Homo sapiens: one gene and its partners. The protein of the gene in region 3 interacts with the protein of the main gene of each other region in a pairwise test. Each region holds a gene or a part of one and is shown on either strand. Other genes may lie near its edges. The genes, in order: MTMR6, TPTE, PTK7 and PTPN12.

Region 1 (5,815 bases), on a different chromosome or scaffold from region 3:
GTTCTAGAAAATTAAACAACGCAAAAATAAGCAAACAGATGGCATCCTCACCAAGGAATTGTTACATTCAGTTCATCCTGAATCACCTAACCTCAAAACTTCCCTGTGTTTTAAAGAGCAGACTCTGCTACCCGTAAATGATGCTCTTCGAACTATAGAGGGCAGCAGCCCGGCAGATAATCGTTATAGTGAATATGCAGAAGAGTTTTCTAAATCAGAACCTGCTGTGGTCAGCTTAGAGTATGGTGTGGCAAGAATGACTTGTTAGACTCATAGAGTTTTTTCTGCAATGATTGCAGTACAAGAAAAGGATTATTGTGAGGATGGTCTGTAAGCATAACCAAAAGGAATTTGTCTAATAACAATTTTAGGGTTTAACAGTAGGCTAATAGTTGAAGGAAGGATAATAACTACCCTTGTGAGAGAAATAAGTCATTTTAATTGCATTTCCAGCAAGGAATGACATTCAGTTCTGTAAGAAATGAGTGGTATTTGATGTATTTACTCAAAACACAATTTGCACTGTACACTAGTGAATTGACGTTTATGATTTATGTTAATTCAGCCAAACATAAATAACCTTCCTTAAGTACAATTTAACTTCAAGAAAACAAAATTTGACAACATAGTTTCTTAATAAATGATATGGCATGTACTTTCAATTATGTAGCTTTGTAACTATGAATATTTACATATTTTGCCTTTTAGTGATATTTAATGTTAAAGTGCCATGAAAAATATTTCTAAGAAAGCCTTAAATTCCCAGTGGATTCTTTACCCTTAAGTTTTACAGCCTACAACAAGATTTTTTGTTTTGTTTTTCTTCTGGTCAGCCTTGTTTTGTTTGTAAAGAATTGTGCTCTCATTACTGCTGGGGGTGCATGCTACAATACTTCTATATAAACACTTGTAGAAGTACACTGTTCACGTTTAGCCTGCCCCACTTTTGTATTCAAAATTAATGAAACTGAAGGTTTATTCTGATCATAATTTGTTTAGTGCTACATTTGATAATTTATTATTTACAGCTTAGAATATTGATTTCTTGAATACGTATAAGCACATTTGACTGTCTTTTATATATGGATTACTGCATTCCATTGATTCTTATTTTGTGGTTGGCTTTATTTCTTTCACAACTGTGTAAGTTTAAAGAGCTAAAGCTCTAAAACTGTTCTGAGAAACAATGAATAGTACATGTATATGTATATTTTTAAACTGCCTTATTGCTCAATGAGTTGCTGTTCCTGGAGTATCTAACTTTCAGTTTACTCAAAAACTTTTGGGTAAATAAAAAAGGGAAGTACAGATAGTTTAGGTTGTGCATGGTTGCATGAATTTTGAAGTCATTTCTATGTGGAGCATTATTTTTCTTCTTGTTAAATATAGAAAAAAAAAGAGATTCTAGTACAAAGTTACTGTTTAACAAAAGCAACATAAACTCTGGGAAAGATTTCATTTTGCCATGTTATATTTACTGTTTATTCTGTGTACTAGTACATATCTTTAAATTACCAAAAAACAAGAAACAAAACATAAAAACCCCAAAACTATCACTTGGAATTAGCAATATCACCCAACTGGCTTTAAAATTGAAAATTTAAATAACATGGTGGCATGAAGTACAATTCGAGTATTAGGCAATTTGCATAGTGTTCCTCATGCTACTTTCTGTTACACCTCTATTATATTAGTTTTGAATATAAACATCTTTTTCAGACCAAAAAAAACTTTATTGTATGAGAGCTTATCTTATCCTGTTTATTTTTCCAATGCTTTTCTGTAATACATTATGTAATTTAAAAAATATTCCTTTTTAAACAGCAACAGAAATGCACTATAAAATATAGTATGTGATTAACCAATCCTGCTTCCATATTTAAGCACTGGGAATGGAAACTTAATCTCTGTGACTACAAAGGGAAGTTTTTGTGCCTTGGTGTTCCAGTCACTGATTGTGGTTTTAGAATCTTCTGTGGCTGACTTCTTGTATTCAACTCTGGTTTATTATCTTAATCTTCAACTTCAGACATATATTTGTGTGTTTATATGCTCACAGGTGGACTGAGAAATCAGTTACATCTTAAGTGACCTACAGGGTATATGTTGGCAAAAGCAGACTGTGTATATGTCTTATAAAGTTGAATTTATGTTCAGTGTGTTTGGAAGTGTATAGCATGTAAATTACTTCATATATGATTTAAAGGTAATTAAATGTTCACATTTTACTTTGAATGTTTTTCTTCTGGATAAAACAAATGGAATCAAGTTGTAGTTGTTTTTTTTTTCTTCTCACCTAGGCAAGTAGACTTGCCCATTACATTAACATAACAGCATAAGGTTTGAGGAGTTTATTTTCCAAAAGTTTGTTGATAAATAATACCTGTTTCATACAAAAATAATTTCCAGAATATTTAAAATAGGTATAGTGGGCTAAAAGGCCCATCAGATGTAGGTAATAATGTCATTAAGTTTTCATTTTGTTCCTGTCACTTGCTTATATTACAATCACTATTTTTTTGTGCCCTTGCCAACTTGATGGAAGGCAGGGTCCATTGAGTACAAACATTCGAGGTGAAATGTCTCTCCAAAGGCAGATCTGGATGTAAATATGAGGAAGAAAATAACTGGCTGACAAGAGGATAATTTTATTGAGGGTGTTTTGAAAAGGTCAGCTAGGCTAGAAGTAGCTCAGGGAATCTTGAGTAAAGATGAAGGGAACTCTTTTAAAACAAATTCAATTTATTTGGTCGGGTAGCAGAGCAGGGAGGTGGTGTCAGTCAAGCCTGTTTTGAAACATTTTTTGCAGAAGGTCAGCTTTAAAATATTGAAAAATTTCCAGTTGACATGCTAAGTTGGATTAAATGCTGATCATTTATAAAACTATATAGTTGCTGCAAAAGTAATTGGGGCTTTTGCCATTGAAAGTGATGACAAAAACCGCAATTACTTTTGCACCAACCTAATACTACAGTTGCAGACTTTTATTAGTGACGCTGATCTTCATTAGTCAAGTTTTAGTTATTTTGTTGGCTTTTCCATGTAGAATTCCAAGTGACATTAACATACTTTGATTAATTAAAGAAAATTTGGAGACTGTTTAAGATATATGTCTAGATATCAATGTAAACTATAAGCTTTAGGAACTTACATCTAGAAGAAAGCCTGGAATCTAGAATAATTATCTCAAAAAAAAGTATATATACCATTGTACTTGATATAAGAAAATGTAAACATGAAACCTTGACATTTTAATAAACAGTATTTGTGCTACTCTAGTTATTTCTAGGAAAGTAAAATATCCATTTAAATGGCAACTTTTATAAAATAGTGGCCTGCATAACTGAAAGGAACTTTCAGAAGCTAGTAGTAGACTCTATAGCCCTGGTGTTCAGTTTCTGATTCAGTAGTTAGGGGTTGGGACTCTGGAGTTAAAATCATTTGCATACCAATAAATTGTTTGCACTTAGCAATATTTTGGATATTGTGATGCAAATGGTTGGGGAATCATACTTTGAGAAACACTGCTGTAAACCACCCATCATGGTCAGTAAACATCTTGTTTGTTCTTAAAGGGATGCCGAATTATTCTTTTTTTTTTTTTTTTTTTTTTTTTTTTGAGACGGAGTTTCACTCTTGTTTCCCAGGACAGAGTTAAAGTGGCACAATCTTGTCTCACCACAACCTCCGCCTCTGGGTTCAAGTGATTCTCCTGCCTCAGCCTCCGGAGTAGCTGGGATAACAGGCATGCACCACCACACCGGGCTAATTTTGTTGTTTTAGTAGAGACGGGGTTTCTCCATGTTAGTCAGGGTGGTCTCAAACTCCTGACCTCAGGTGATCCACTGGCTTTGGCCTCCCAAAGTGCTGGGATTACAGGCGTGAGCCACCACGCCCCACCTCAGAATTACTCTTGTATAAAGAGCAACAGGCTAGGGAGCATCACACTTCTGAAACATTGTGATACAAGTGGGAGTGAGAAATAAACCTTTGTTTTAAGCCACTGAGAATTTGGGCTCTTTGTTACTGTGGTGTAAGCGTGCCCCTCCTGAGGGATGAAACCATTTGTACAAATTTCTGTTTTTCCATTAGTTCCCAAATGGCCTTTGTCCTGCTATTTTGCGTCAGTAGCCAGCTGAGGTTTGTGCATTGCATTTGGTTGTAGCTCATCAGTCTCTGTGTTGAACAGCCGGTCACCTCTTCCCCTCTGCATTGACCTTTTGCACCAGACCAGTTGTAGTTTTCCCACTTTCTGCTTTTGTCTGATTGTTTCTTCGTGGTGTAATTTAACTTGTTCCTCTGTCTACTGTACCTGCTGTCAAGTAGGTACTAGATGAAATTCAGAGTTAGCATTTCAGGAAAGATGCTGTGTACTTAATATTGAATTACTGCGGGAGGATATAATGCCAGGTGGTTCCATTGTTAGTGACGCTAAATTTAATCACTTGGTTATCTTTTCATTGTAAAGATACATTTTTTCCCTTTGAACTCAGCAAATGCTCTATGGGGTGATATTTTGGCATCAAATTGAATATCCCTTTCCTTAACAACCTATCCATTAATTATACTTGCCCAAATCAGTTATTTCTTTGGTGTTACAAAATGCTGATTCTCTAATTTTGTTTTAACTTTTTACACTTATTTGCCTGCATTTGTTTGTTTGTTTGTTTGAGACAGAGTCTTGCTGTGTTGCCAGGCTGAAGTGCAGTGGCGCAATCTCGGCTCACTGCAACCTCCGCCTCCCGGGTTCAAGTAATTCCCCTGCCTCAGCCTCCTGAGTAGCTGGGACTACAGGCACGTGCCACCATGCCTGGCTAATTTTTTGTATTTTAGTAGAGACGGGGTTTCACCATCATGTTGGCCAGGATGGTCTCAATCTCCTGACCTCGTGACCCCCCACCTCAGCCTCCCAACATGCTGGGATTACAGGTGTGAGCCACCACGCCCGGCCTTGCTGGCATTTTTAAAAGAAGTGCTGGGTCCAGTGAGTACACATACACTGGAAAGCAGTGAGAGGTGAGGCCAGCTGGACTTCTGGGTCAAGTGGGGACTTGGAGAACTTTTGTGTCTCAAGAGGATCGTAAAACGCACCAATTAGCACTCTGTAGCTAGCTAGAGGTTTGTAAAATGCACCTATCAGTGCTGTGTAAAAACGCACCAATCAGCACTCTGTGGCTAGCTAGAGGTTTGTAAAATGCACCAATCAGAACTCTGTAAAATGGGCCAATCAGCACTCTGTAAAATGGACCAATCAGCACTCTGTAAAATGGGCCAGTCAGCAGGACATGGGCGCAGACAAATTAGGGATTAAAAGCTGATCACCCCGCACCCCAAACCCTCCCAGCCAGTAGCAGTAACCCACTCGGGTTCCCTTCAACGTTGTGGAAGGTTTGTTCTTTTGCTCTTCACAATAAATCTGGCTGCTGCTCACTCTTTGGGTTCCTGCCACCTTTAAGAGCTGTAACACTCATTGCGAAGGTGACTTCCTTCATGAAGTCAGCAAGACCAGGAACCCACCAGAAGGAACAACCTCCGGAAACAGCAGGGTCCAGTGAGTACAAACATTCAAGGTGAAATGTTTCTCCAAAGACAGATCTGGTTGTAAATATGAGGAAGAAAATGACTGGCTGAGAAGAGGGTATTTTTGTTGAGGATGTTTTAAACAGGTCAGCCAGAGTAGAAGTAGCTCAGGGAATGGAGTAAAGATGAAAGAATTTTTTATTTTTATTTTTATTTTTTGAGACAAGTCTCGCTGGATCACCCAGGCTGGAGTGCAGTGGTGCCATCTCGGCTCACTGCAACCTCCGCCTCCCTG
Region 2 (9,048 bases), on a different chromosome or scaffold from region 3:
AGAAGGGAGCATAACTAGAACACAACTAAATTTTTTTAAAATAAGATTATTCAATTATATGCTAATAAATGTGAAAACTTAGATGGAATGGAAAAATTCCTAGACGGATATAAAACACTAACATTAGTGCAAGAAAATATATTTATATAGAAATAGAATACTCAAGTAACAAAGAAATCAACCTAGTATTTAAAGCCCTTCCCTCTCCCAAACACCACAGGGCCCACATAGGTATTTTTCAAAATTTTTTAGAATATTGACATACTTACTACAAAATCTATGTCAACATATAAAGGCTCCATTAATAACTTAACTAATCATGCTAATAAAAAAAGGTGTAGGGATGCCATAAGTATCAATGGACCAAAATATTGAGCTCAGAGATAAACCTATGTGGATATATGTCATTGACAATGATTACATAAACAAGGAAAAAGGATGAACTGTTTCATAGATGGTATTTGGAAAATCAGCCTACCACTGGGAGACAAATGAAACCAAATCCCCACCTAACACCATATTGAAGGGTAGACTCTAAGTAGATTAAAGCATTAAATGTGTAAATTAAAACTATGAGGATTAGAAATTACCTTTGTAGACTGAAAGTGGGAAAATTTCAAACTTCAAAAGTAAAATAATAAGGCAAAAAGTTATTTCATGAAGAGAATGAAGAACAACAATGCCAAAGCTAACAGGCAGATGACGGATTAGAGCACATAACTTCAATGTCTCAAACTGATATGAAGGATGATTTGAATACATAAAGCGATAGTCCAAACTTTTGAATGGGATTCCATGCATCTGAGTCTGTTTAGTGTTGCCATAAGGGATACCTGAGGCTGGGTAATTTATAAAGAAAAGAGGTTTATTTGGCTCACAGTTGTGTGCTGCACAAGAAGCCTGATGCCAACATCTGCTTCTGAGGCTGCTCCCATTTATGGTGGAAGATGAAGGGGAACTGACACGTGCAGAGATCAAATGGCAAGAGGGGAATCAAGGTGCGGGAAGCCGCTTGTCTCTTTTTAAACCACCAGCTCTTGCAAGAACTAATAGAGTGAGTACTCACTCACCCTCACTCCAAGGGAGGGAATTAATCTATTCATCTTCCAAACACCTTCCATTAGGCCCCACCTCCGACATTGGGGATCAAATTTCAACATACGGTTTGGGGGTACAAATCTCCAAACAATAACACCATGTTTTTAATGTTACTAAAAAGAGTGAATTCTTGCTATATTGTTTACAGATGTAACATAATCACTTTGAAAATTAAACATAATTTTAAAAGAAATTTGATTAACTTATTCTAAAATATAAAATATTCAAAAACAGCACACGTAAATTAACAAGACAAAGATAGGAACACTAGTGGAAAAACGGGCTAAGTTCATGAATGGACCATTACAGAAGAAATCCCAAATGCTATAAGAACATAAAATGATGCTCAAATTCATAAGTTATCACATAAATTCAAAGTAAAACATAATGCAATATGTTACCATCTATTAGACTGATTATATAAATTGGAAAGTTTGATAATGTCAAGTGTTGTTGTGAATGTGTATGTGTAGGAACCATCATGCATTATTCAGGAGATGCAGACTGGTATAACCATTGTGAGAGCAATAGGCAGTATTCAGTCAAATTCAAAATATGCAATCCCATGGCCCATCAAGTCCTGTTTCATATTCCTACAGAAATACTCAAACAGGTCTATAGGGGTCTGGCATAAGGATAATTATTTAGCGGCACTCTTTGTGAAGGCAAATGGTAGGAAGCAATATATGTGTTCCTCACTAGGGGATGCATGCTGTGCAATTTTTCATACCAGTTAAAAGCAACAACGAAAGGTATGCACAAGAAGAATAATCTTATGTTACTATGCAAAAAACTAACAAAATGAGATACAACTTAATACCATTTAAGTAAATTTAAAAACATATAGGCAAAACAATAATACATAGTTTACAGAACACATATAAATGTATATACTGTGTATTAAACATATTAAAATTGTTGCATATGTGCATATATCTGTATATGTCAATATGTATATCTGTACTCTCATCTAGATATTAAAAAGGCCTACAAGTAGCAATGAGCCAATGGCAATCAGCATACCAAATGCAAAATATTGATTGGTTTCTAAAGGGCATGAGGTTCTTTGGGTAAATGGCTGATTCCAGGGCTGGGGAAATGCTCAAAAAGTGATGGGAACATGTCAAGTCAAAAGGACACAGGGGCTAGCTTTTAGGGAGTCCCACTGGCCAAATATGAGACCATTTAAAGATCAAAATAAATAATGACAGAAAGGATTGTAATTCATTGAAATAATGTAAGAATTTATAAGTTCATAGTAATAGTGAACAAATAGGGGTAGGAATAGCTCTCCTTATAATAGAATGATACTTATTAAACACAGAAAAACTACTTTTTTTAAAAAAAAAATCACCATTTTGTAATGATCACAGTTACAACTGATTCACATAAAAATCAATGAATGCTAAAACTAGGGCATGAAAGTTTTATGTGGAACAGGATACTGAACATTGAAAATAGTTTTAACATAGACTGAAAGTATCTCCCCCCAACATGGATATTAATTATAAACTGAATAATATTTACTTGTCAGCGAATAAATCTGGCAATACCTCTCAACCACAATAGAGATATGAACCATAAAACAGTGTAATATTCAATAGAGGAGTTACTTAATCTGAAAGTGGTATTCAATTCCCTCATCTATCCTTTAAAAGGCCATGAAATTATTTCCTGTCATCTCATATAAAAGATGTTGTAATATTCTAAGAGCTTGCATTTAGGTTGTCTCTGAAAAGAGTCTGATGAATAACTTAACAATAAGAAAGTGAATGCTGAGATTTTAGAGTGAACAGACATTTTAATCTCACAGTCTACTTTTGTGTTAACTCACCCCTCTCACATTTCAAAAATATCTAAAAGTAGCTGTTAGACATTCTATTAAGTCCTCCTGGTGAAAATGGAAATGTTTGGATATTCCATCTTTGCATCATCTTCCTATATCCCACTTTTAAACATTTTTGGCATTGAAACTTATCCTTCAAATGAACTTTTAGATATCACACATGCTTAGTAAACTTCAAATCTGCAAGTGGTGAACAGATAATCTGCACAGGAAACACTTTTTTTTTTTTTTTTTTGAGACAGAGTTTTGCTCTGTCATCGAGGCTGCAGTGCAGCAGTGCTGTCTCAGCTCACTGCAACTTCTGCTTCCCGGATTCAAGTGATCCTTCTGCCTCAGCCTCCCGAGTAGCTGGGACTGCAGGCATGCACCACCATGCCCAGCTAATTTTTGTATTTTTAGTAGAGACGCGGTTTTACCATATGGCCAGGCTGGTCTTGAACTCCTGACCTCGTGGTCCACCTGCCTCAGCCTCCCAAAGTGCTGGGATTACAGGCTTGAGCCACCATGCCCAGCCAGAAAACACTTTTGACAAACACACCAGCATTTCCTTTTGTAGAATCCTTGGGCCATATTAAGGGTATTGTTAAGCTGCCATCTCATAAAGTATACAGAATAAAACACTAATTTGGGGAGACGTTAAAAGGGAATAGTAACAACAGCAGCAGCACTTGTTTTATTTAAATGTGGAAAATTAATTCAAAATATAAAAAAATATTTTGGTGACTATATTGGTAATCTTACGATAAGAAGTAACTTTCTGAGTATAACACAAACAGCATCAGTTATAAAAGTACCAATTATATTTGAACACATGAAGCTTATTATAAAGCTCTATGTAAGGTTGCTGCATTTTACTTCAAACATCAAATGCAAAAATATATTAGAGATTTGCCACATGGAGCGGTGATATGACCAACTTATTTGAACAACAAAATTCCTTGAATCTAAAAGATATGGTAAATATGACTTAGCTTACTTAAAACCCAACTTTTTAGAAAGAATTTTAGAATCAGTGTCCAGAAAACTATTTTCCCATGAATAATTCTGAGACTGAATTTCACAAACCTGAATTCCTCCCATCTCCAATATATATTATGACATCCCCTTTCATTGTTGACTCCAGCACAGATTTCTGATGTCAATTCATTGGAGTCAGTGCAAAGGATTGAAAGGTAAATAGTAAGAAACAACATAAATGTATACACGATTTTTTTTTTTGGTTCAAATTGGCTATGATTGCGCTACAAATTACAATGTGTTGTCCCTAAAAATTCTCATGTAAATCTGTTATTTGGCACCTGGTACTTGATTTTTCTCTAGAAAGAAGTCTCTATGTGTTGGTAATAAAAATTGTTTAGGACTCTCAAAAAAGTTTAATGAATCAAGATTTAAATACAATTATTACTGAACCTGATCATCATGTGTGGCAGCAAATTTAACTTAAATTTCCTTCAAATTCATGTCCCATTTGTAGGCACACATTATTCTTGCCCATTTTGATTTCCTAATTATCAAGTCCCTCCACCACCTTCATGCTCTTCATGAGTCACAGATATCTTTGCTTCTCCTCAAATAGGATCAAGTGACTAAACCTGAGGCAGGGGCTCCATCCAATGTGATGATGGCTTTGAGTTTGGGGCACCAGCTCTGAAGGGTGAGGGACAGATACAGGGTCTCTTAGCTCCTTTCTTGCTGCTGAGGGCTCCTCTGCTGCCTGTCCAATGCTACCACCTTCTTTCTCCAAGTAGGATTCTCTCCTCTCTTGGACCACTCTTGAAGAGAGTCTCATACACAGGCATTCTGATAGTTTCCTAAGGTTTTGGCTGCTAATTACTTAGAGTCACAAACAATCTTTGAGTACCAAGCATCCTTCTTCTGACCTGATCTTATTTTTTCCACTCTGGTTCAAAAACAATGTTACCAAAGATGCTTAAAGTCTCTGATAGAAAGCTGTTATTGCCATTGATGCTCCCAGTATTTTTCACCACTTAGATCAGTCAACTCACCCATTGTGGTCATAGTTGTCAAGAGCATACAGTAGAATCTGGTAGTGAATCCATAACTCTACCAAAGAGTAAAAAGCACATACAAAAAATAAAGTCAGATATTTTGGAAGGCAATGAGGATGTTAATCTCAACAGTATTTCAGGACACAAAAAATAAAATCGGAGGAATTTTGACAAGAACTAAAGAAACAATTTCAGGATACAGCACTAGTACTTCTGAGACTGTGTGTGTGTGTGTGTCTGTGTGTGTGTGTGAGAGAGAGAGAGAGAGAGAGAGAGGGGACACAGAAAAAAGAAAGAAAATGTAAGAATAATGAATGTTTCTATATCAATGGCTAGTTCCCGGTCATCCTTGGTAGGAAATAAACAAGTAGATAAGTCAAGCCTTAATTATGTTTAAAACATTTTGTGAACTTAAAGTGGATTATGTGTTTACAATGATTTTGTTTTCTCTTTGTCTGGATTCATTTTTTTAAAGTTATATGGCTATGTTTTACAATATCAAGACTTCCTAGCACCGAAACCCCTGGCTTGGCTAATTTAATCTCTCTGCTACTTCATTTCCTCATCTGTAAGTTAAGACACATGCAAAATACACTCCACATCTGTCAACTTCATAAAACCATGCTGAATATTCAGCATTTTGCCAATATTGGTTTTTAGACAACCTGCTCTCTACACCATATATTATGCCATAAAAATCAGTATGTGGCAATATAAACGGATACACATTTTTAGTTTCAAATACACAAACATTCTCATCAAGGTAATACACTCCCAAGACTCAAGAATTAATGCTCTTCACCACAATTTTCTAACTTTTCAAACGTTTAAATAAGTTTAAGAAACTGATCACATACATTTTTTTGCTGCTGATAACAACTGGGATTCTCTAAGAGTGTGCTGAGGTTTCTTAACCTATTTGACCACAGAACCTCTTTCTCACAGTGGAAATGTGTGAGAAACACATTTTGGAAACAATATATTAAATGGTATCTTTTTATGTCTTTAAGAAAAGTTCCCCTACACAAACTAATTTTGGACTCTGATCAATAGCTCCAACCTTTAAGCACAGATAGACATTAATATTGTGCTAGTCTTTCAGCCTGTGAGGAAAGGAGTGCCAGAGTTCAAATTATCGCATCTCGTTAGCCTGGTCTGAGGGCCATGAGGGGAACCTTTCAAGTTCTAAGTGGGTGTTCTCATGTCCTTGAATGGCTCCTGGAAATTCATCCAGGTCTCAGGAAAAACAATAACCTTTTACAAAAAGAAAGGCATCTATAGGCATCCGCTACTTTTCAGCAGGATGAATAATTGGATTGTCTATGCAGAATACACTAATAAATCATAACAGGGGAAAATGTTCAAAACACCAAAAAGGTAAGAATTTGAGTTTCTGACATAAGCAGCCTTATTAAATGATTACTAGATTTTTCAGACATCCTCTACTGAGGAAGAGAACTGGAAGACACTCAAATTACTCCAGATTCAGGTGACAAGCCAGGATTGCTAAGCAAGTTCCTTGGGAAACTAATCTCCAAAAAGGGCACGAGACATCCATAGATGTTACCTGAACTCCAGGGAGAGTACTGCATGAAGTCTGAAATAATACTTTGATAAGCTGCTTTGGGGCACAGAATGACTTCCCTCATGGGACATGAATAAGTAACTAGCTAAATTGCCCCCTAAGGAAGGTGAGAATTGCAAACCGTCCTAAACTGAAGTGGTCATGCAGAATTCTTAAATGCTTTTTGGTAGATAGGAGCAACCACAGAAGTTTGAGTTAGCTGAAGGTTAGCTACACCTTTATAATCATGCTACCAGGTTATAATGAAAAGTAGGTCTCCGACCAAATCTGCCACACATACAGATATTCATTTAACAAAACATTCAGTAGCAAGCAGACACAGTATATAAGCTTCTGTAAGCTTTCCGCACTTTAGGTACTCCAAGCATGAAAGCTTCATTCTCAACAGATTCCTAATGTTTCAGAGGCCAAAATCTTCCTAAACGTTCCTGGAGATAGGACCATATGAGGATCAAGCCTTGGGTGTCGTCTCTAAATATACACTACAGGCCACCCTCATACACCTTTATCCTGTTTATGCAAGGGTGGGCTGTCTCCAAAACACGTTAGTTGATTCACAGATCTTAAAATGTCATATAATTGTAACATCCATCATGCTGCTTTGTAAGCCGCCAATTTCACTAATAAAAACCCATTTGTGACCTTCACTGTAATAATTAACAATGTTTCAGGTGTTAATTGAGATGGGACCACTGAAGCCCTTTTGGTGGCCATCTCTGTGGAGTGGCTTCCTGAGCTGAACACTAGCTTACCATCCTTGAACAGAGCATCCAACATTAGGGCAACCAGCTGCCCCTGTAGGAAAGATTAAAGTGACCAGTATATGCATATTATCACACTGCCTAAAATGTCATAGAATGAGGCTTGGTTTGTTTTTTAAATTTTTTCTATTTCTATTATTTTTCTATCGAATTATTTTTCTATTTTTATTTGCTGGGTCACAGACAACAGCAAATTCCATACCTTCAGAGTTATACCAGCTCATCTGCAGTAGGAGTAGAAATATCAAAGCTCTCAGTCTACCACCTTGTGCTCCAGAGATGTGGCCCAAGCACATCTTTGGACGTGAACCAGGGCAACCCAAGGCAGAGCTGGATTTCTGGGAGTTTCTCCCTATAAGCCCTGGACATGCTTACCTATACACCAGACTGCTTCCAGAGCCACTGCCGGGCAGAAGAGCCTGGGGTGTGTTCAGCTGCTAGAATAACACAAGTCTGAGGTCTTGTGTCGTCGGTCCAACATTCTCTAAGAGGGAGAAATTTAATCAAGATCCTGTTAGCAGTTTTCTCTCTTGTTGCCTTTCAAGATTATGGCTTTTCCTTTTTTCATTTTTTTAGTTCCCAAAACCAAGCTTGTTAAATCAAATCTTGACCCAATTCCTGGCAAGTAACAAGGTTATTGCTATTTGGCCTTACACCCACGGGTTGTCCCCCAGTACCGTGAGGGTAAGGGGACTCTGTAAGGTCCCTGGGAGGGGAAAGGAATGTCAATTAGTGGTCCCCCCAGCTGGGTATAAGCAAACTTTCCTGTCTATGGGCCGCAGAGACCACCATCTAGTTCCCCCGCCAAAACTTTACATGATTTTAATTCTCCTGATGAAGATGAGAGGATAACAGCCAACAGAGAGGGCAGAGGATGGGATGGGACTCCCTTGCTCAGAGACCTCACCTCTAGGTCTTTACCTCCTATTGAGAATAAGTCAGTTCTGTAGTAAGAACTCTGTGTCCACGGCAACCCCAAACAGAATCCTAGCGCTCTTGTGATTCTTGTAGAATGGGGAATAGAACGAGCTTGGCCCAAGACTGCACAGACTTAAAAACATACTATTCTTTGAAAATGGCAATCATTAAAAAGTCAGGAAACAACAGGTGCTGGAGAGGATGTGGAGAAATAGGAACACTTTTACACTGTTGGTGGGACTGTAAACTAGTTCAACCATGGTGGAAGTCAGTGTGGCGATTCCTCAGGGATCTAGAACTAGAAATACCATTTGACCCAGCCATCCCATTACTGGGTATATACCCAAAGGACTATAAATCATGCTGCTATACAGACACATGCACACGTATGTTTACTGCAGCACTATTCACAATAGCAAAGACTTGGAACCAACCCAAATGTCCAACAATGATAGACTGGATTAAGAAAATGTGGCACATATACACCATGGAATACTATGCAGCCATAAAAAATGATGAGTTCATGTCCTTTGTAGGGACATGGATGAAATTGGAAATCATTCTCAGTAAACTATCGCAAGAACAAAAAACCAAACACTGCATATTCTCACTCATAGGTGGGAACTGAACAATGAGAACACGTGGACCCAGGAAGGGGAACATCACACTCTGGGGACTGTTGTGGGGTGGGGGGAGGGGGGAGGGATAGCATTGGGAGATATACCAAATGCTAGATGAGGAGTTTGTGGGTGCAGCGCACCAGCATGTCACACGTTTACATATGTAACTAACCTGCACATTGTGCACATGTACCCTAAAACTTAAAGTATA
Region 3 (9,048 bases):
CGCCCAGGCTGGAGTGCAGTGGCGCAATCTCGGCTCACTGCAACCTCCGCCTCCTGAGTAGCTGGGATTACAGGCACATGCCACCACACCTGGCTAATTTTTGTATTTTTAGTAGAGACGGGGTTTCAGCACGTTGGTCAGGCTGGTCTCGAATTCCTGACCTCGTGATCCACCTGCCTCGGCCTCCCAAAGTGCTGGGATTACAAGGCGTGAGCCACTGCACCCAGCCATTTTTGTATTTTTAGTAGAGATGGGGTTTCACCATGTTGGCCAGGCTGGTCTCAAACTCCTGACCTCAAGTGATCCACCTGCCTCGGCCTCCCAAAGTGCCACCACGTTTTGAAGTGGTTTGCTATGTAGCAATGGATAACTGATGCCGAAGCCAAAGTCCTTACTATGCTTTTACAAGGCCTATGGGATTTAGTTTCCACCTCTCAGGCAACTTCAACCCCTCTCACCATCGTTTATTCAACTCAAGCCACACAGGCGACTACTGTTCCTCCAACATACAAGCCCATTTCCATCTCAGGGCCTATCACATGGCTGGCTCCCTTCTTAATTTAAATACCAACTCCAATGCACCTTTTACAGAAGTCTTCCCTAAACTCTCACTGGCCCTGCCCTTTCTCTATCACTTGCCCTATTTCATTGTTCTCCCTTGTTCTACTGGCACCTAAAATTATATTTGTTCATTTGATAGTTTTTCTTACTGGCTTTGTCCCCGCTGTTAGAATATGAACTCCACAAGGAGAGGGGCTTCTGCCTGCTTTGTTCACAGTTGCATCCAGTACTGGGAAGAGCTAGCACAAGGTGCTCGACAAATCTCTGTTGACTGAATGCATTCCCAGAGCTCTCCGTCTTCTGGGCTCTACCCTCTAACACCCAGCACCTGATCTGGCCCTGTTTGCATCACACACTCTCAAATGCCACAGGCCTCCTTCTCAGAGCACAGCAAGGGACACTGGCATGGCTCAGTGTCAGCCTCAGTCAGCATCTGTGGAATGACTGATCAAAGCCAGAGTTCCCCAACTTGAACACACATGAAGTATCACCCAGAGCACTTGTTAAATACACATCTACCTGGGTCCCACCCCTAGAGCCTGGGTTGGAAGCTGTGGAGTGGGGCCCCGAATTCTGCATTTTTTTTCTTTTTTTCAAGGCTCCAGCAATGTCTTAGACATTTTTTTGGAGACAGGGTCTTGCTGTCATCCAGGCTCCAGTACAGTAGTGTGATCATAGCTCACTGGAACCTCCAGCTCCCGAGCTCAAATGATCCTCCAGCCTCAGCCTCCCAAATAGTTGGGATTATAGGTGTGCATCACCATACCTGGCTAAATTTTTTTTTTTTTTTTTCCTGAGACAAAGTCTCGCTCTGTCACCCAGGCTGGAGTGCAATGGCACGATCTCGACTCACTGCAACCTCTGCCTCCTGGATTCAAGCAATTCTCCTGCCCCAGCCTCCCAAGTAGCTGGGATTACAGGTGAGTGCCAACATGCCCAGCTAATTTTTGTATTTTTAGTAGAGACGGGGTTTCACCATGTTGGTCAGGCTGATCTCGAACTCCTGACCTCGTGATCCACCCACCTCGGCCTCCCAAAGTGCTGGGATTACAAGCGTGAGCCACCGCGCCCAGCTAACTTTTTAAATTTCTGTAGACACAAGGTCTCACTATTTTGTCCAGCCTGGTCTCAAACTCCTGGGCTCAAGAGATCTTCCTATCTCGGCCTCCCAAAGCACTGGGATTATAGGTGTGAACCACCACGCCTGGCCTGTGTTTTAAAAAGTATCCCTAATGAGGCCGGGCATGGCAGCTCACACCCATAATCCCAGCACTTTAGGAGGCCGAGGCAGGTGGATCACTTGAGGTCAAGAGTTTGAGACTAGCCTGGCCAACATGGTAAAACATCGCCTCTACTAAAAATACAAAAATTAGCCAGGTGTGGTGGCACACACCTTTAAACCCAGCTACTTGGGAGGCTGAGGCACGAGAATCACTTGAACCTGGGAGGCGCAGGTTGCAGTGAGCCAAGATCACACCACTACACTCCAGCCTGGGTGACAGAGTGAGACTCCGTCTCAAACAAAAGAAGAAAAAGTATCCCTAATGAAAGCAGGTGATTCTCAGACCTCAACTGGAGGAAGGCTTGACTGTGCATCTTGCCTTTGCACCTGCACTGTGAGTGTCCTGAGCACTCGTTACACATGTGCTGTGATTCCCACCCAAATCACGGCCTGAGTATAGGTGCATGTCTTCTAAGATTTCAGTATCCTAATGGGAATACTAGCATCACAACTTCACATTTACAAAGCCACTTTCATATTCAAATCTTTTTGCAAAGTTACCCACTCGGAAAGATAATAGTAACATAAAGGTAAGTGGAAGAAGCAGATTGCAAAATAGTTTGTATGTATGTGTGTCTCTGTGTGCATATTGTAATTTTTATTGTGTATCCTTTTAAACTACCACAAAAGGTTTGGAACAAGGCATGGTATAAAGAAATAAGTAAACAAATAAATCCCTATGCCTGTAGTGAGGATATAAGGTTTGTTTTGTTTTGTTTTGAGATGGAGTCTCACTCTGTTGCCCGGGCTGAAGAGCAACGGTGCGATCTCAGCTCATTGCAACCTCTGCCTCCTGGGTTCAAGCAATTTTCCTCCCTCAGCCTCCTGAGTAGCTGGGATTACAGGTGTGCCCCACCACGCCCAGCTAATTTTTGTATTTTTAGTAGAGATGGGGTTTCACCATGTTGGTCAGGCTGGTCTCCAACTCCTGACCTTGTGATCCGCCCGGCTCGGCCTCCCAAAGTGCTGGGATTACAGGCATGAGCCACCGCGCCCAGCCTGATATAAAGGGTTTATCATGTGTACTTTCAGTCATATGTCTTGCTTTTCTCCCCCTCTTTTTTTTCATAAGTAATATGTTTAGTAAAGAAATTTGGAAAGCATAACAAACTAAAACAAATTAAAAATCACCTATAATTTTGTCCACTATTACCTCCCAAAAAAGAAAAAAAGAAAAATCATTTTCATCTACTTCATTTGACCTTTCCAACCACCTTGTGGGGTAGGTAGTAGATTACTGGCTCCATTTTATGGATGAGGAGACTGAACCCCAGTAAGGTGGGTGATTTGCTACCATCGTCACTCTGTGCATTGGGAGCATAGTGGGACCCAGGTCTCTAGATTCCTAGTCTATTGCTCTTTCCTCTGTACCCAGAGGACCATTTTTCTGTGAGGGCTGTCACTATTTCCTCTGGAGCACCCACCCTAACCCCTGTGCCTGGCTCTCTACTGTCTACACCGACTCCCAGTAGTGAACTGATTCCCAAGCCTGCAGGGCCCAGAACTGAGAGGACCTCAGGTGAGTACCAGGGAAGCCTCTGTCCATCACACCCAGACCTGTGTTCCCCTCCACCTCTCCTTGACCTTCAGGGCAAAGGTGCTCACTGGCCACAGTGATGTTGACATCCTGTCTCCGCTGACCAGCCAGGTTGGCCGCGTGGCAGGTGTAGACACCAGCATCACTTTCAGCAATATTGGCCAACACCAGCTCGTGGCCCTTCTGGTAGACCCTGCCATGGGTGGGCAGCCGGACTCCCGCGTGCTCCCACCACACGCTGGGCTCTGGCAGACCCTTGGGGGGAAGGCAGGTCACACGCTCCTCGCTGCCAGCTGTAAACACCCGTGGCTCAAATAGCGGCATGTCTTCAATCTCTGCAAGGACATAAGTAGGAGGAATGGCCCAATTATTGTGGGTCTCAGGGTACATGATGTTCTCCCACAGCAAGCCTAGGCCCTTTCCCAGCACAAACCCTCCCCTGCAGCCCTCTGCATATCCTCTTCCTACTCCCAGCATCCTTTTCTTCCCCTGCCCTCCAAGCGGCTGAGTAAAAACAGAAGCCTAAATCTCTATGTGCCAAAAATGTTAAAGGCAGCCTCCCACATCAGCACCCCAGACCCAGAGACTCACCTGCTAGGTGAAGTGTGGCTTCCAGGATGATGGGTGGGCCCCTCTGCCCCTGGCCAATGCAGCGGTAGATCCCTGCATTGCGTGGCCGGACCTGGGTCAGCAGCAGAGACCCGTTGGCAAACACTGTGGCTCTGCGGAGGTGTGGGGGGCTGCAGAGGGGAGAGTGCAATTTGGAGAAAGTGGCCAATAGGCCTAGTTCTGGAAAGGAATGCAAGGGAACCCCTTTCCTGCAAAGTCGGAAATGTAGTAAGGAATCGACCAGGAACAGGGCAGAGAGAAGGAAGCTGACACTCCAGACTGGTGTGTGTGCCTGCATACACTTGCTCAGGTGCACGTGCAGGTGTGTGTTCCAACTACAGGAGATCAGCTCGGGAAGCAATGAGGCAAATGGCAATGCAGGTGCGAGAGAGAGTGATATGGTTTGGCTGTGTCCCCACTCAAATCTCATCTTAAATTGTAGCTCCCATAATTCCCACATGTTGTGGGAGGGACCCAGTGGGAGGTAACTGAATCATGGGGGCAAGTCTTTCCCGTGCTGTTCTCATGATAGTGAACAAGTCTCACGAGATCTGATGGTTTTAAAATGAGGCATTCCCCTGCAGAAGCTCTCTCTCCTTTGCCTGCTGCCATCCATGTAAGACGTGACTTGGTCTTCCTTGCCTTCTGCCATGATTGTGAGGCTTGCCCAGCCATGTGGAACTGTAAGTCCAATTAAACCTCTTTCTTTTGTAAACTGCTCAGTCTCGGGTATGTCTTTATCAGCAGCATTAAAATGGACTAATACACAGAATAACCACCATGTGCAACTGTCAAGACAGGGAAGCCACCTTCCCACAGGGCCACGTTGATAGGGCACCCAGCTCCAGGGTCAGATACCCCTCAGCCATACCAGGCAGGCTACTGATGATGTCCTCAGGGCTGAAGCCAAGTGGCATCCAAGCCCCTAGCCTAGGAAGCCACACCCCCAAGGACCATGGTCGTGCCTGACACTGCAAAGGTGTTCTATGTTCTCCTAGGGTCCAGGCAAGAACAGAAGTCCCTGCAGTAGGGCTGGAACCTTCTAGAGGTGTTTGCTTCCTCTAAAAAGTGTGTGTGTGTGTGTGTGTGTGTGTGTGTGTGTGTGTGTGTGTGTGTGATGTCTTTGCCACACTGGATCACGCTATCTAGACTATGACCACCTGACTACCTAGGTCTCTTGTGTCTCTCTCATCCCTGGGGTCTCTACCCTTCCATCCCAGAAGACCCATGTGGGTGGTGGGGAGAGAGAAGTGGAACCATCACTAGCTCAGAGTGCCTTTGTGCAAACTGGAAAAGGGCTCTTCCCAGAGACTCTTCCCTGTGTCAGACTCATCTTGTAAAAGCAAAACATTCAACTGTGTCTCTTGGAAATTTGAAATAATACATGTACAAATCTGTGATGTCTGTGATACAAATCGCACCCCCTTCTACAGAATGCATGTGTGTGGTACATGGTACTGGAATGCTCCCAGCCAGATGCCTTACCGACTGCGGTTAGTGATGGGAGTCTCATCCTCAAAGAGCCACTGCAGGCTCGGGGGTGGCTGGGCTGAGAACTGGCAATGGAACATGGCCTCCTCATACCTCGCTACTACCACGTCCTGGGGTGCCAGCACCACCCTGGCAAAGCTTTCATCTGGAGAGGGAAAGATGGGGGAGCATGCAGCCTGGGTGGTGAGGCCCTCCTGTGCTCACCTCATCCCTTCCGCCCCCACCCCAGGCTCACCAGCAATGCTCAAGGTGAAGTTCTGGCTGCTGCAAGCCTGGCCAAAAGCACTGTGGGCGCAGCAGGAATACAGCCCACTATGCTCAGGACCAGCTGGCCGGAGCGTCAGGTTCCGCTCCTTGCTGCTGACTGTGTGGTTGCTCTGACCATCAGAAAGGGGGGTCCCATCTCGGAACCATTGGTAGGTGGGCCTGCAGGGCAGACACAGTCAGCAGTGGTGGGGAGGGGTACTCAGTGGCCAGTGGAGAGGATACAGTATCAGAGGGTCAGGGCTAGACCTTTCAGTTTATACATGGAGAAACGGCCTGAGGAAGGGAAGGGACTTGCAAAAGGGCACACAGTAATTCTGATTCAGGGGCAGAATCAAGTTGATATTAGATCTCCCAGCTCTACACACAATGTGGCTCACTCTTCAGGCCACCAGGGGCCGGCATAGGGCAATATCTGGGGGAGGGCAGGGTGAAGAGCACTGTGGTGGTGGAACGAGTGGTCACAGAATGGAGCGAGGTAACATCCGCATAGAGTCCAAGATTTGGGGAGACATCCCTGTCCGGAATAACCCTCTTCATCCCCACCTCCCTGACTCCTTACCGAGGGTGCCCATCAATGTGGCAACGAAGTGTGACCTGGGTCTGTGGCTGGATCTCAGCTTCCGAGGCTGGATGCTTCAGGACCACAGGACCTGCCTCAATCCCTGTAGCAGAGGCCACGGTTGCAGTGAGGGGCAGAGCAGGGCAAAGGCGGGAAGGCAGAGGGCAAGGAGGACAAGCAGGAAGCCGTGGAACCTCGAGGCTCTGTGCCAACAGACACAAGGAAGCCCTGGAGGCTGAGGCTGGGGCTACAGTTACCAGATACTAAGTGCCTGCCTGGTCCCTGGCAGGTCAAGTCTGACACTTGGCCAAGGGCTCGGCCGCCCTTTCCATTTGCACAAGCATGCAGCAGATAAATGGGTCCCAGACTTGAAGGAAAAAATTTTGGAAAAAATATAACTTTTAATTTCCTCTTATCCACATGAGCAAAAAAAGCTGATGATAAATGCATTCTGCCTGGCCCGTTTAACTGGAAATGGGAGAAGCTGAGGTAAGGGAGGGATCCCCCAGGCCTCAGTCATTGAGGGTCTGACAGGGGGACTGGGCACAGCCCCCCTGGCTCTCACATTTGATGTTGAAGGAGGCGTTGGCACTGCGGGCTTCTTCTCCAGTGACATCATCCCGAGCCACACACTGGAAGGTGCCAGAGTCCTGCAGCCGGTCCACAGCTGCAAAGCTCAGGCTGCTGCCCTGGGCGAAACGCCGCTCCGTGTCCTGGACAGGGGCCCCATCGAGCAGCCAGTACACATGTACCGGGCCCGGAGCCTCAACCTCACAGCGAAGCAGCGCCCGGCGCCCCTGCAGTGCATCCTGGGAGGACGGCTGCTTGATGAAGACAATGGCTGTCTGGGTACCTGTAGATGCAAACAGGGGAGAGGCAGGGTCAGGGGGAGCTGCAGCCTCTGTCCTAACACAGGCCACCTTGTGCACAGGAGGAAAGGGGCTGTGTACACAGGAGGCGTCCAGTAAGTGCAGGTGTGAAGGATCATGATGCCACAATTGCAAGAGTCCCCTGAAAAACTTTTCTTTTTCTTTTTGAGATTTCTTTTTCTTTTTTTGCTCTTGTCACCCAGGTTGGAATGTGGTGGTGTGATCTCAGCTCACTGCAACCTCCACCTCCTGGGTTCAAGTGATTCTTCTGCCTCAGCCTCTCGAGTAGCTGGGATTATAGGCATGAGCCACCACACCCAGCTAATTTTTGTATTTTTAGTAGAGACAGGGTTTCGCCATGTTGGCCAGGCTGGTCTCGAACCCCTGACCTCAGGTGATCTGCCCACCTCGGCCTCCCAAAGTGCTAGGATTACAGGCGTGAGCCACCACGCCCAGCCCCCTGAAGAGCTTTTCAACTGTGCTGAGTGCTCTGTAGGATACAAAGACACAGTAGCCTCTCCTCAAGAGGTCTGAAGACTAGAGGGGCACACAGAACACAGTTACAGTCACATAAATGCCAAATGAATGGGGTGGGCAGGCAGTAGTGACTTGAGCACGAAGGAAGAAGGGACCCCTAAGGGCTGGCTGCACAGGGAGGCTTCCTAGCAAAAGAGAGTCTGGGCCTGCAGGGTGAGATCACAGGAGGTTTTGATGCCAGGCTGAGGAGCCGGGGACACTGCAGGCCACCTTCCCCCAATACAGACTCAGGAGGTTTAGTAAAGTTAAATCATGACCCAAACAGCACCCTGGAAAGATGGCTTCACTCATGCCCCTCGACGGTGCCAGCATCAGAGGTGGCCACAGATGGGACGCTTTGAATCTCATCCGCAAATGCTCTGCAGCCCAACGTTTCCCAGACGCTTCTTTGAAAAAACCCAACCCATCACTGGAGAAGCCAAGATTCTCTAGAAACCTGGGCTACTGCCAAAAACAAGCCAAGGTCATTCCCATGTCCTGTTCTTTTTTTTTTTTGAGACGGAGTCTCGATCTGTCACCCAGGCTGGAGTGCAGTAGCGCGATCTTGGCTCACTGCAAGCTCTGCCTCCTGGGTTCACGCCATTCTCCTGCCTCAGCCTCCCGAGTAGCTGGGACTACAGGTGCCCGCCACCACGCCTGGCTAATTTTTTGTATTTTTAGTAGAGATGGGGTTTGACGGTGTTAGCCAGGATGGTCTCGATCTCCTGACCTCGTGATCCGCCCGCCTCGGCCTCCCAAAGTGCTGGGATTACAGGCGTGAGCCACCGCACCCGGCCCCATGTCCTGTTCTTTATCCCTGAAAATCCATCTGTGGCCAAGGTCAGCTTCTCTGTGTTAAGAGGAGAGCCATGTGGTTCCAGAGTTCCACTTGAAGTCATTCCCCTTCCTGCACCATTATAGTTCAGCTCTGGCCACAGGGTCCCCGCAACCAAAGGTGGAACTGCAGTCAGTGGGAACAAAGGAAAGAGGAAGAAGCCTACACTGTATGGCAGATGGGTTTAGGGAGGCGGAGGGCAGAGCCGGGCAGGTGGGTGGCATGGTTACGGCGGCGGCAGGAGCAACACACTGGACTTTGTTCCTAGCCCGCGTGGGCGACTTGCAGAGGCCTGGAGCCACTGGGCCTTGAACACAGAAGAGGACTCCCTGATCCCCCCGCCCCCGGAAGAAGAAATGGGCCACCTGGAACTGCTACACGAAGCAGCAGGCTCTGCCTTGAGCCAAACTGGCTGGGCAAGGGCAGAAAGGTACTAACGGAGTCTTTTCCATCCCTTCCCAAACCACTGGAAACTAATCTTGGCCTACAGAGCCCCTTCCAAGTCCCTGGAGGTGGGGTTCT
Region 4 (9,048 bases), on a different chromosome or scaffold from region 3:
AGAATTAAAAGCATGTCAACATCAATTTACTTGTTTTTGAATTTAATTATGTAGCACAATAGCTAATAGATTAAAATCAGGTATGTTTTTCGGAGTTTATTATTAGAATATGAAGTAAATGTAAAAGCAAAAGAGACACTCACTATGTTCACTTGCTAACACAAACGATTCAGGAGTTCTTTCAGGTAGGGGAGGAGGTGAATCTTCACTAACATCAACATCTAAATTAAACACATAAAAATTTAGACAAATTAACATGTCATCTAAACAAAATCAGAGAGCTTTCTTGACATTCTAAAAATTCCTGTCACAAATATCTAGATCAGTTTTTAAAAATGCAAAAAAATGCAAGAAACCTTTTCCACTCATTATCAAGAATTATGATGCTTATTGAGCAAAGATAATGTATACAGAAATGACTCTCTCCCATGACTTTCCTGTCACTCTACAGACATCATTCAGTTCTCCAAGCCTGAAGGGAATCTTCAGTAGAGAAGTCAGCTGGCAAGTGACTTCTCTACTGAGCTTACTGATGATGTTTTGTGTCCAAAAAGGAAAGCTTTGGTCATTTGCGTTATGAAACGCCTAAGCCAGTGTTTCCCAAACAGGATTCAATTGCTTAACACCTTTCATGATTTTTGCCATACTATGTAACATGTGTCCTATTCACTTTTAAAATCTGACTCATTTTAAACTTAACTGTGTACCTCAGTCATGTCTTAAACAGCAATAACTGAAATAACATTGGAAATACTAGTTATTTTTCCAAAACAGATAAAGATATAGCTATTAAAGTTTTTTAAAAAATCTTCATTTATTTATTGCTAAAGATTTTGTGTACAGTGGCACATGGCTGTACTTTGAGAATGCTGACTGAAGCTATATACAGGTTTTTCACTAGTAAAAACAAAATTAGCTCTTGGGAAAGAGAGTGCATTAAGTAAGCCTCATTGGTTAGCTTTATTATGGCTTAAGGTAAATGAGTGTATTTGATCTTTGAGTTTTCACTGGAGGAATAGAAAGAAAATATAAGAATACAATCCTGTGTGTGAACTCTCAGGTTGGGGAGGGTGGGATAAAGAAAAAGAAATGCGACGGTCCTGTATTATTTTGTCTTGAGCCTTGCCCATTGTTCTTAAATGAACACACAGTTCTGCCATGATACTCTGCTATTTTACCACACCTGATGGCTATGCATAGGTCTTGTCAATTTTCAACACGCATGAGGTGAGTATGATTGCTTTTGCCCCACCTACATTTATTTAGCTGGAGACGCAAGAAAATACAGCTTCTGGGTCCTCCTGAAAGAGGAGTTCCAGTCCAATACTTGATACATCTACCAAGAGTACCAGAACTCTCTCTTGCCACTAAAGAACTATCTACCTTATCCAGTAGTGGTAGTCTGAGTCATCACCATATGTCTCCTTGCCCTCTTGCTACTAACAGCGCACAGTGAAGAGATGGCTGTTGGAAGGAAGGGACACATAATCTTGGCATTCTGGTACCATTTCTTAAATTAAATGAACAAAACAAAAAGGGCAGTTCAGCCCTTTTTCTATCAGTTATCTTCCAGAAACTCTGTGCTTTTTCTCTCATGGCAGTTCTCACCCTTAAAAACTTTTATTTTCTAAGCGTGGCCCTTGCTTTGCAAATGCATGTTTCTCCCTGGAACTTTGGGCTGCCTTTCCTGTTAAAAACTTTTGTTTTAGAGGTTATCCAACCAGATATTGCGTATTTTATATAGGCTTTTGCAAATCATACACTGTATGGGGCCTTCTGTAGTTGAATCTGAGAAATCTTTCAGGAGGCCTAAGTCAAGACTGAAATTAGAATTGATAGCTAAGAATTTTTGTCAGGCAGTAACTTATGCAAAAGTTTTTTTTAGGTATCAATACAAAAGTATTCCATTATAGTCATGCACTACATAATGATGTTTTCATCAACAAGACCGCATAAACAACAGCGGTCCTGTAAGATTATGATACCATATTTTTACTGTACCTTTTCTATGTTTAGATACACAAATACTTACCATTGTGTTACAATTGTTGAGTATGGTAATATGCTATACAAGTTTGTAGCCTAGGAGCAAGAGGTTACATTGTATGGCCCAGATGTGTAGTATATACTATACCATCTAGGTTTGTGTAAATACATTCTATGACATTCACACAATGGCAAAACTGCCTAATGACATATTTTTCTTAGAACATATCCCTGCCATTAAGAAATGTGTGACTGTAATTCACTAACAAGTTCTAGGACCAAAAAACCCCCCAAAACTCTAATTCTGGTGCCAATGGCTCTATAAGATAATGATCTACAAAGGAAATAATAATCTATAAGGTAAATAAACAATCTATAAAGTAAATAATCCATATGGTAAATATTTGGCAACACATTAAAAATGAGACTACTTGTAGTTATGCTGCAACAAAGAACATTTACACACAGGAAAATCTTCGGTTAAAATCAAACCAATAACATAGTTAAGGTTGAGTAAAAAGAAACCAGAAATCACATGTATAGTGATTTTTGCTTTGAAATACAAAACCAAACAAACAGAAATGAGCTGGCACATAGTAGGGTGCTTTTAGCTATATCTTACTCTTTTTTTTTTTTTTTTTTTGAGACAGGGTCTCCCTCTGTTGCCCAGGCAGAGTGCCGGGACGCAATTATGGCTCACTGCAGCCTTGAGCTCCTAGGCTCAAGTGATCTTCCTACCTCAGCCTCCAGAGTAGCTGGGACCACAAGTGTGCACCACCATGCCCGGCTAGTTTTTTATCTTTTGTAGAGATTGGGTGTCACTATGTCACCCAGACTGGTTATGAACTCCTGGGCTCAAGTGAACTTCCTGCCTCAGCCTCCCAAAATGCTGGGATTACAGGCATGAGCCACCAACAGACTCGTCATGTAGTAGTAACTTTTAATAAGCATATCACATCATACATCTTTCTGGCCCTCACCAAATCCTATTTCCAGTAATGGTTTTTTGGTTTTTTTTAAAAAAAAAAGCAAAAGAACAAAACAACAACAAAAAAACAATAAAACTTCCTAGGTACAATACCACATGCTTGATATACTAAAAACTCAAAATGAAAATTTCTTATCTACATATTTTCTTATATAGTTACAGCTGGGCAGTTATATTTCAAATTCTGAAGCTGAGGAACAAAAGACATTAGCAATTTAAAATTATGGTAAACTGGTAAAGTAATATTATACTATTCATTATCTTCTAAAGATCCTTCAAATAAAACAAAGATAAATCAAGAAAAGATAATTCTGTAATTTAAGCAAATAGTTTAAGACTGTCACCTGGCTGGGCGTGGTGGCTCACGCCTGTAATCCCAGCCCTTTGGGAGGCCGAGGTGGGCGGATCACGAGGTCAGGAGATCCAGACCATCCTGGCTAACACAGTGAAACCCTGTCTCTACTAAAAATACAAAAAATTAGCCAGGCATGGTGGCGCATGCCTGTATTCCCAACTACTAGGGAGGATGAGGCAGGAGAATTCCTTGAACCCAGGAGGCGGAGGTTGCAGTGAGCCAAGATTGCGCCACTGCACTTCAGCCTGGGCAACAAGAGCAAAACTCTGTCTCAAAAAGACTGTCATCTAGTCTACCAAATACACTCTCTCAAGTTAAAAAATACAGTATGTGTGAGAGAAAATACAAGCACTACAGTATGGGTGGTATATAATGGGTCAGAAATAGAAAATAATCTTTCAAGGCCAGGTGTGGTAGCTCACGTCTGTAATCCCAGCACTTTGGGAGGCCTAGGTGGGCAGATCACTTGAGGCCAGGAATTTGAGACCAGCCTGGCAAACATATCGAAACCCTGTCTCTACTAAAAACATAAAAATTAGCTGGGTGTGGTAGTGGGTGCCTGTAATCCCAGCTACTTGGGAGGCTGAGCCGAGATCTTGCCACTGCACTCTAGCCTGGGTGACAGTGCAAGACTCAAAAAAAAAATCTTTTGAGTGCAAGTCTCAAAAAAAAAAAAAAATCTTTCAAGGTCACAGTACTTATTTTGCCTGCACGTTATAAATACCAGTCTGTATGTGTCACTACCAAAGTTCACTGATAGGTAAGTGACCACTGATAATCAATATATCAATAAACAGCTTTCAAATTTATATGTTTACTCTCAACCTTAGGGTCTGTTTAAGATGGTAGCCATCATTACTTTCAGCAGATCAAAGAGGAGTTTCAAGAAGCAATAATACACTTTGGGAACTGAGTGCATGCATTATCTTGAAATGCTAAGAGTGCTAAAAAAATAATAATTCTTTAAATAATAGCTTTGATGAGTAGGTATGCATATAGCCCACTCACTACTGAATTGAGCAGTTTGCAGTATTGTTCCTGGGTTAAACTCAGGGTTGGAAGCAGCCATATTTGGAAGCATTTGTGAAGACAGTAAAAACAAACAAACAAAAAAATGTAATCTGTAGTTAAAGGAACAGTAAAAAATGACTAAACATTTAGGAAAAACGAGTAACATTATATGGCCAATCAAGACATTCTACAGTATTTTTGCCACTGTTATTTTAAGTGATTCTTCCCTAAATTATTTCTAATTATTCAGTCAGATAAATTTTTGACCGATACAAAAACACTAAGATCTATAATACAGAAGAAAAAGAAAATAAGTTATCCAGTTATAACTACTAAAATAATTTAGAAACACAAAACCCAGTAATATAATGTGACCAAATTGTTAACAATACATTAAAAGCTTATATTAAAAAATTAGTATCTAAGACAGATTTTGCTGTAGGTTCTATGGTAGAGTGTGGAATAAAACATAATAAATCAATACAGCTAAAGTGCTTAAAACAGTGACTAGCACATAGGAAAGACATTTAAGTATTTGACACTATATTATTACCTTTTTCAGCACCTGAATGTGTTGTTCCTGCTATATTATGTCTAGCAATGGACATTGGCAATACTTTCCTAGTAGAAATGCTTTCAGTACTAGTGGCAGCAGAAACTGTGGCACTTGCTGTTGAAATATTAGTTTTATTCTGGGTCACAGCACCATCAGAGTTTCTTTCATCTGAGTCTGAGTCATCAGAGTGAAGTGGATTAGTAAAACTGAGGGGTGTTCTGAAGAGTGGTGAAGTGTTATCATGATCCACAAGATCAGGTGTTTCAACTTGTGTTGTAGGACTTGGTGTTAAACTCACAGTTTTCCTAGTTTGATAGTTGATATCTGAGGAATTGCCTTCAGATAAATCAGGTATGGGTATGGCATTTTCAGGTCCATGAAATGACCACGTTACATGTCCTTTCTCATCAAGAGGCAAGCGGTCTGGCCTTGGAGGTGTGTCTGAATTCTGGGATTCTTCTGGTGGAGTAACTGAAACTTTGTTTGATTGTGTTACACTGCAGTCCACACAAGAATTCTGGGAAGTATCACCGACATTTAGATCTGAACTTAATTCCTGTGGCTTAGAGATTTTATCAGCTATACAAGGTGAAGCAGATTTAATTTTAATTGCATGTCCCCTATTCAAAAGTGTGTTCCCATCAAAACTTTTTGGTCCCTCTTGGAGAGGGACCTTCTTAATCTCAAAACTTAAATTTCGTTCCAATTTTTTATCTATCTGTTCAATTGTTGATTCATTTTTCCCTGGAAGTTCTGTTGATTTACTATAGTTTCTGTTGAGGTCTGCTGAATGTTGTTCTGATGAAACCATATGCAACACTGGCTTTGGATGGTATCTATCATTGTCCTGCCACACAGTAGTGACTGTTGGAAAAGCTGAAGGGGGAGAAGGTGTCAAGATGGGTGGCACTGGATGAGGTTCCGGTGGCTGCAGTATTTCTTCTTTAGCATCCCCTTCAACAAGGCAACTGAAAAACAAACATTTAAAAAGGGCATTTTAAGACTGTTAAACAAGTTGATACCTGAGAATTATGTAGCTAAGAGTAGCATATTAAGAGCCATTACAATCTGGTTGCGAATAAAAACTGCAGTTTTTCAGACTAAGAAAATTTAATGTTCATCAAGGTAATACACATATACTGTTTAAAAAGTCAAATACAAGACTTTGAATGAAAAACATAGTCTCTGCCCCGCAGCCCTCCTGTTAGCCAGAGGCATCAACTTTCAACATTTTTTTATAGCTGCTTCTAAAATTTACACCTCTGTATTTCAGACTATTTCAAAAGTTATTTCTTGATCTTTGTTTCACACATTTTCTACTGACTTCCTACTGTGGAAGTGTCCTTCTCTATCTTTCCAATACTGTTATATTGTAATTTTTCATTACCTCAGTCGTATGACTGCAGATAGTATTCCCATCTATGACACCATGATTTCGTATCTTTTCTTCTATAGTGTCTTGTTTTCCCCTAATGACTGCCTTGGATTTCTGATGGCTTAGCTCTCTATGCATCATCAGTTACTCAGCTTTTCTTCTAACTTTCTTGCAGATTGGTATACCTCCTCTCAATAATGACAAGCACACATAGTAAGTATCAATACCACAGACATCCTTGTTAGTAACTTTTGGCCTCCTGCTCCAGTGTGGACTACTGGTTCCCTAGTCCATCACAGAGCTAATGTTCTCTCTGGTTTCAGATTCTCCTGTTTCCCAGGTCTCATTTTCCTCTTTCTGGGTATACTCCTTTGTTCGGGTGGGTTATACCCTCTAGTTGCCTTTATTTTTTTCCTTAAAGAAATAGGGGCCAGGCATGGTGGCTCACGCCTGTAATCCCAGCACTTTGGGAGGCCAAGGTGGGTGGATCAATTGAGCTCAGGAGTTTGAGACCAGCCTGAGCAACACAGTAAAACCCCATCTCTACTAATAATACAAAAATTTGCCAGGTGTGGTGGCACACACCTGCAGTCCCAGATACTTGGGAGGCTGAGGCAGGAGAATTGCTTGAGCCCAGGAGGTGGAGATGGCAGTGAGTTGAGATCACGCCACTGCACTCCAGTCTGGGCGACAGAGCAAGACTGTCTCCAAAAAAAAAAAAAAAAAAAAAAAGAGAGAGAGAGCGAGAGAGAGAGCGCGAGTGAGAGTGAGAGTGAGAGAGAGAGAGAGAGAGAGAGAGAGAGAGAGAGAGAGAGAGAGAGAGAGCGAGCAGCCTGGGCAATATGGCAAAACCCTGTGTCTTTAACAAATACAAAAAAATTAACTGGATGTGGCAATGCATGCTTGTAGTCCCAGCTACTAGGAAGGCTGAGGTAGGAGGATCACCTGAGCCTGGGGAGGTCAAGGCTGCAGGGAGCTCTGATCATGCCACTGCACTCCAGCCTGGGTGAAAGAATGAGATCCTGTCTCAAAAAAAAAAAAAAACCAAAGAAGAAGATAGGGTTTACTATGTTGCCCAGGCTTTGTTGCTTTTTAAGAACTTTATATGAAGCAAACTTCTTGAGGGCTTGTATATTTAAGTTTTTGTGTTCTGTTTTTCTTTTGAGATAGAGTCTTGTTCTGTCACCCAGGCTGGAGTGCAGTGGCACCATCTTGGCTCATTGGAACCTCTACCTCCTGGGTTCCAGCAATTCTTGTGCTTCAACCTCCTGAGTAGCTGGGACTACAGGCACATGCCACCACACCTGGCTAATTTTTGTATTTTTAGTAGAGATGGGGTTTTGCCATGTTGGCCAGGCTGGTCTCCAACTCCTGGCCTCAAGTGATTTGCCTGCCTCGGCCCCCGCAAAGTGCTGGGATTACAGGGGTGAGCCACTGGACCCCACCTCAGAGTTTTTGCTTTTTTTTCTCCCCCCAGGTGATCAACCTTTTTTTATCCAACCAGATAACTGGCAGTAATCACATGGTACACCAGGTTTCCCCTTAAAAGAGACTCTGTGGGCCAGGCATGGTGGCTCACGCCTGTAATCCTAGCACTTTGGGAGGCCAAGGCAGGCGGATCACAAGATCAGGAGTTTGAGACCAGCCTAACCAACATGGCAAAACCCCGTCTCTACTAAAAACACAAAACCCTAGTCAGGCATGGTAGCGTGCGCCTGTAATCCCAGCTACTCAGGAAGCTGAGTCAGGAGAATCACTTGAATTCGGGAGGCAGAGGTTGCAGTGAGCTGAGATCACGCCACTGCACTCCAGCCTAGGTGACAGAGCAAGACTCTGTCTCAAAATAAATAAAATAAATAAATAAAGACTCTGTGAAGTTCAGATTCTCTAGACACATTCCCACATTCCTAGGACATGAGAAGATAAATGAATATCTCCAGAATACTGATCATATTAAAATGACAGCAATACTCTCATAAGATATTCCTATATCTGTTCAAGTTTTACAAGTAGATTCTTTTTTTTTTTTTTGAGACAGGGTCCTGCTCTGCCACCTGGGCTGGAGTACAGTTGCACTATCTTGGCTCACTGCAACCTCTGCCTTCAGGGCTCAAGCCATCCTCCCAGTTTAGCCTCCCAAGCAGCTGGGACTACAGGTGTGCACTACCACACCTGGCTAAGTTTTGTATTTTTTGTAGAGATGTGGTTTTGCCATGTTCATGTTGCCCAGACTGATCTCAAACTCCTAAACTTAAGCAATTCACCTGCCATGTCCTCCCAAAGAGCTGGGATTACAGGTGTGAGGCATTGTACCTGGCCTACAAGTTGGTTCTTAATCTGAAAGAGTGGCTGTCAAATTTTTGCGATCTAAAACAAAAATAATTGCAGACACCTCCTACAATTTATAAAGCATATGCAAAGACCAATAGGTTATCCTAAGAACATATTATAATACAAATAGAAAATATGAGTTTTAAAAGGATGAGATAAAATTTTGATATAAATTGAGGTGTATTATTTTCCCTACGTGTACATGGTGAGACCACTTTTCCATAATCAGTATTTTATTTACATATTTTTTATTGAGACAGAGTCTCATTCTGTTACTCAGGCTGGAGTACAGTGGTGCAATCTCAGCTTACTGCAACCTCCGCCGCCTCCCAGGTTCAAGCGAATCTCCTGCCTCAGCCTCACAAGTAGCTGGGATTATAGGCACGCGCCATGACGCCCGGCTAATGTTTGTATTTTTAGTAGAGACAGGGTTTCGCCATGTTGGC

The links.
Region 1: the proteins of PTK7 (region 3) and MTMR6 interact in a two-hybrid assay, tested with the Homo sapiens proteins (one study listed by BioGRID and IntAct).
Region 2: the proteins of PTK7 (region 3) and TPTE interact in a two-hybrid assay, tested with the Homo sapiens proteins (one study listed by BioGRID and IntAct).
Region 4: the proteins of PTK7 (region 3) and PTPN12 interact in a two-hybrid assay, tested with the Homo sapiens proteins (one study listed by BioGRID and IntAct).

Annotation. Positions count from the first base shown.
Region 1 is NC_000013.11:25,243,685-25,249,499, reverse strand, and holds the end of MTMR6 (phosphatidylinositol-3,5-bisphosphate 3-phosphatase MTMR6), read left to right. Parts: intron 1-7; coding exon 8-268; 3' UTR 269-3,278; downstream 3,279-5,815. UniProt on the Homo sapiens protein: Lipid phosphatase that specifically dephosphorylates the D-3 position of phosphatidylinositol 3-phosphate and phosphatidylinositol 3,5-bisphosphate, generating phosphatidylinositol and phosphatidylinositol 5-phosphate.
Region 2 is NC_000021.9:10,523,315-10,532,362, reverse strand, and holds part of TPTE (putative tyrosine-protein phosphatase TPTE), read right to left. Parts: intron 7,784-9,048; 5' UTR 7,675-7,783; intron 5,009-7,674; 5' UTR 4,951-5,008; intron 1-4,950.
Region 3 is NC_000006.12:43,127,088-43,136,135, reverse strand, and holds part of PTK7 (inactive tyrosine-protein kinase 7 isoform a precursor), read right to left. Parts: intron 7,160-9,048; coding exon 6,872-7,159; intron 6,410-6,871; coding exon 6,307-6,409; intron 5,907-6,306; coding exon 5,716-5,906; intron 5,626-5,715; coding exon 5,475-5,625; intron 4,121-5,474; coding exon 3,972-4,120; intron 3,716-3,971; coding exon 3,449-3,715; intron 1-3,448. UniProt on the Homo sapiens protein: Inactive tyrosine kinase involved in Wnt signaling pathway. Component of both the non-canonical (also known as the Wnt/planar cell polarity signaling) and the canonical Wnt signaling pathway.
Region 4 is NC_000007.14:77,623,521-77,632,568, reverse strand, and holds part of PTPN12 (tyrosine-protein phosphatase non-receptor type 12), read right to left. Parts: intron 5,865-9,048; coding exon 4,894-5,864; intron 222-4,893; coding exon 144-221; intron 1-143. UniProt on the Homo sapiens protein: Dephosphorylates a range of proteins, and thereby regulates cellular signaling cascades. Dephosphorylates cellular tyrosine kinases, such as ERBB2 and PTK2B/PYK2, and thereby regulates signaling via ERBB2 and PTK2B/PYK2.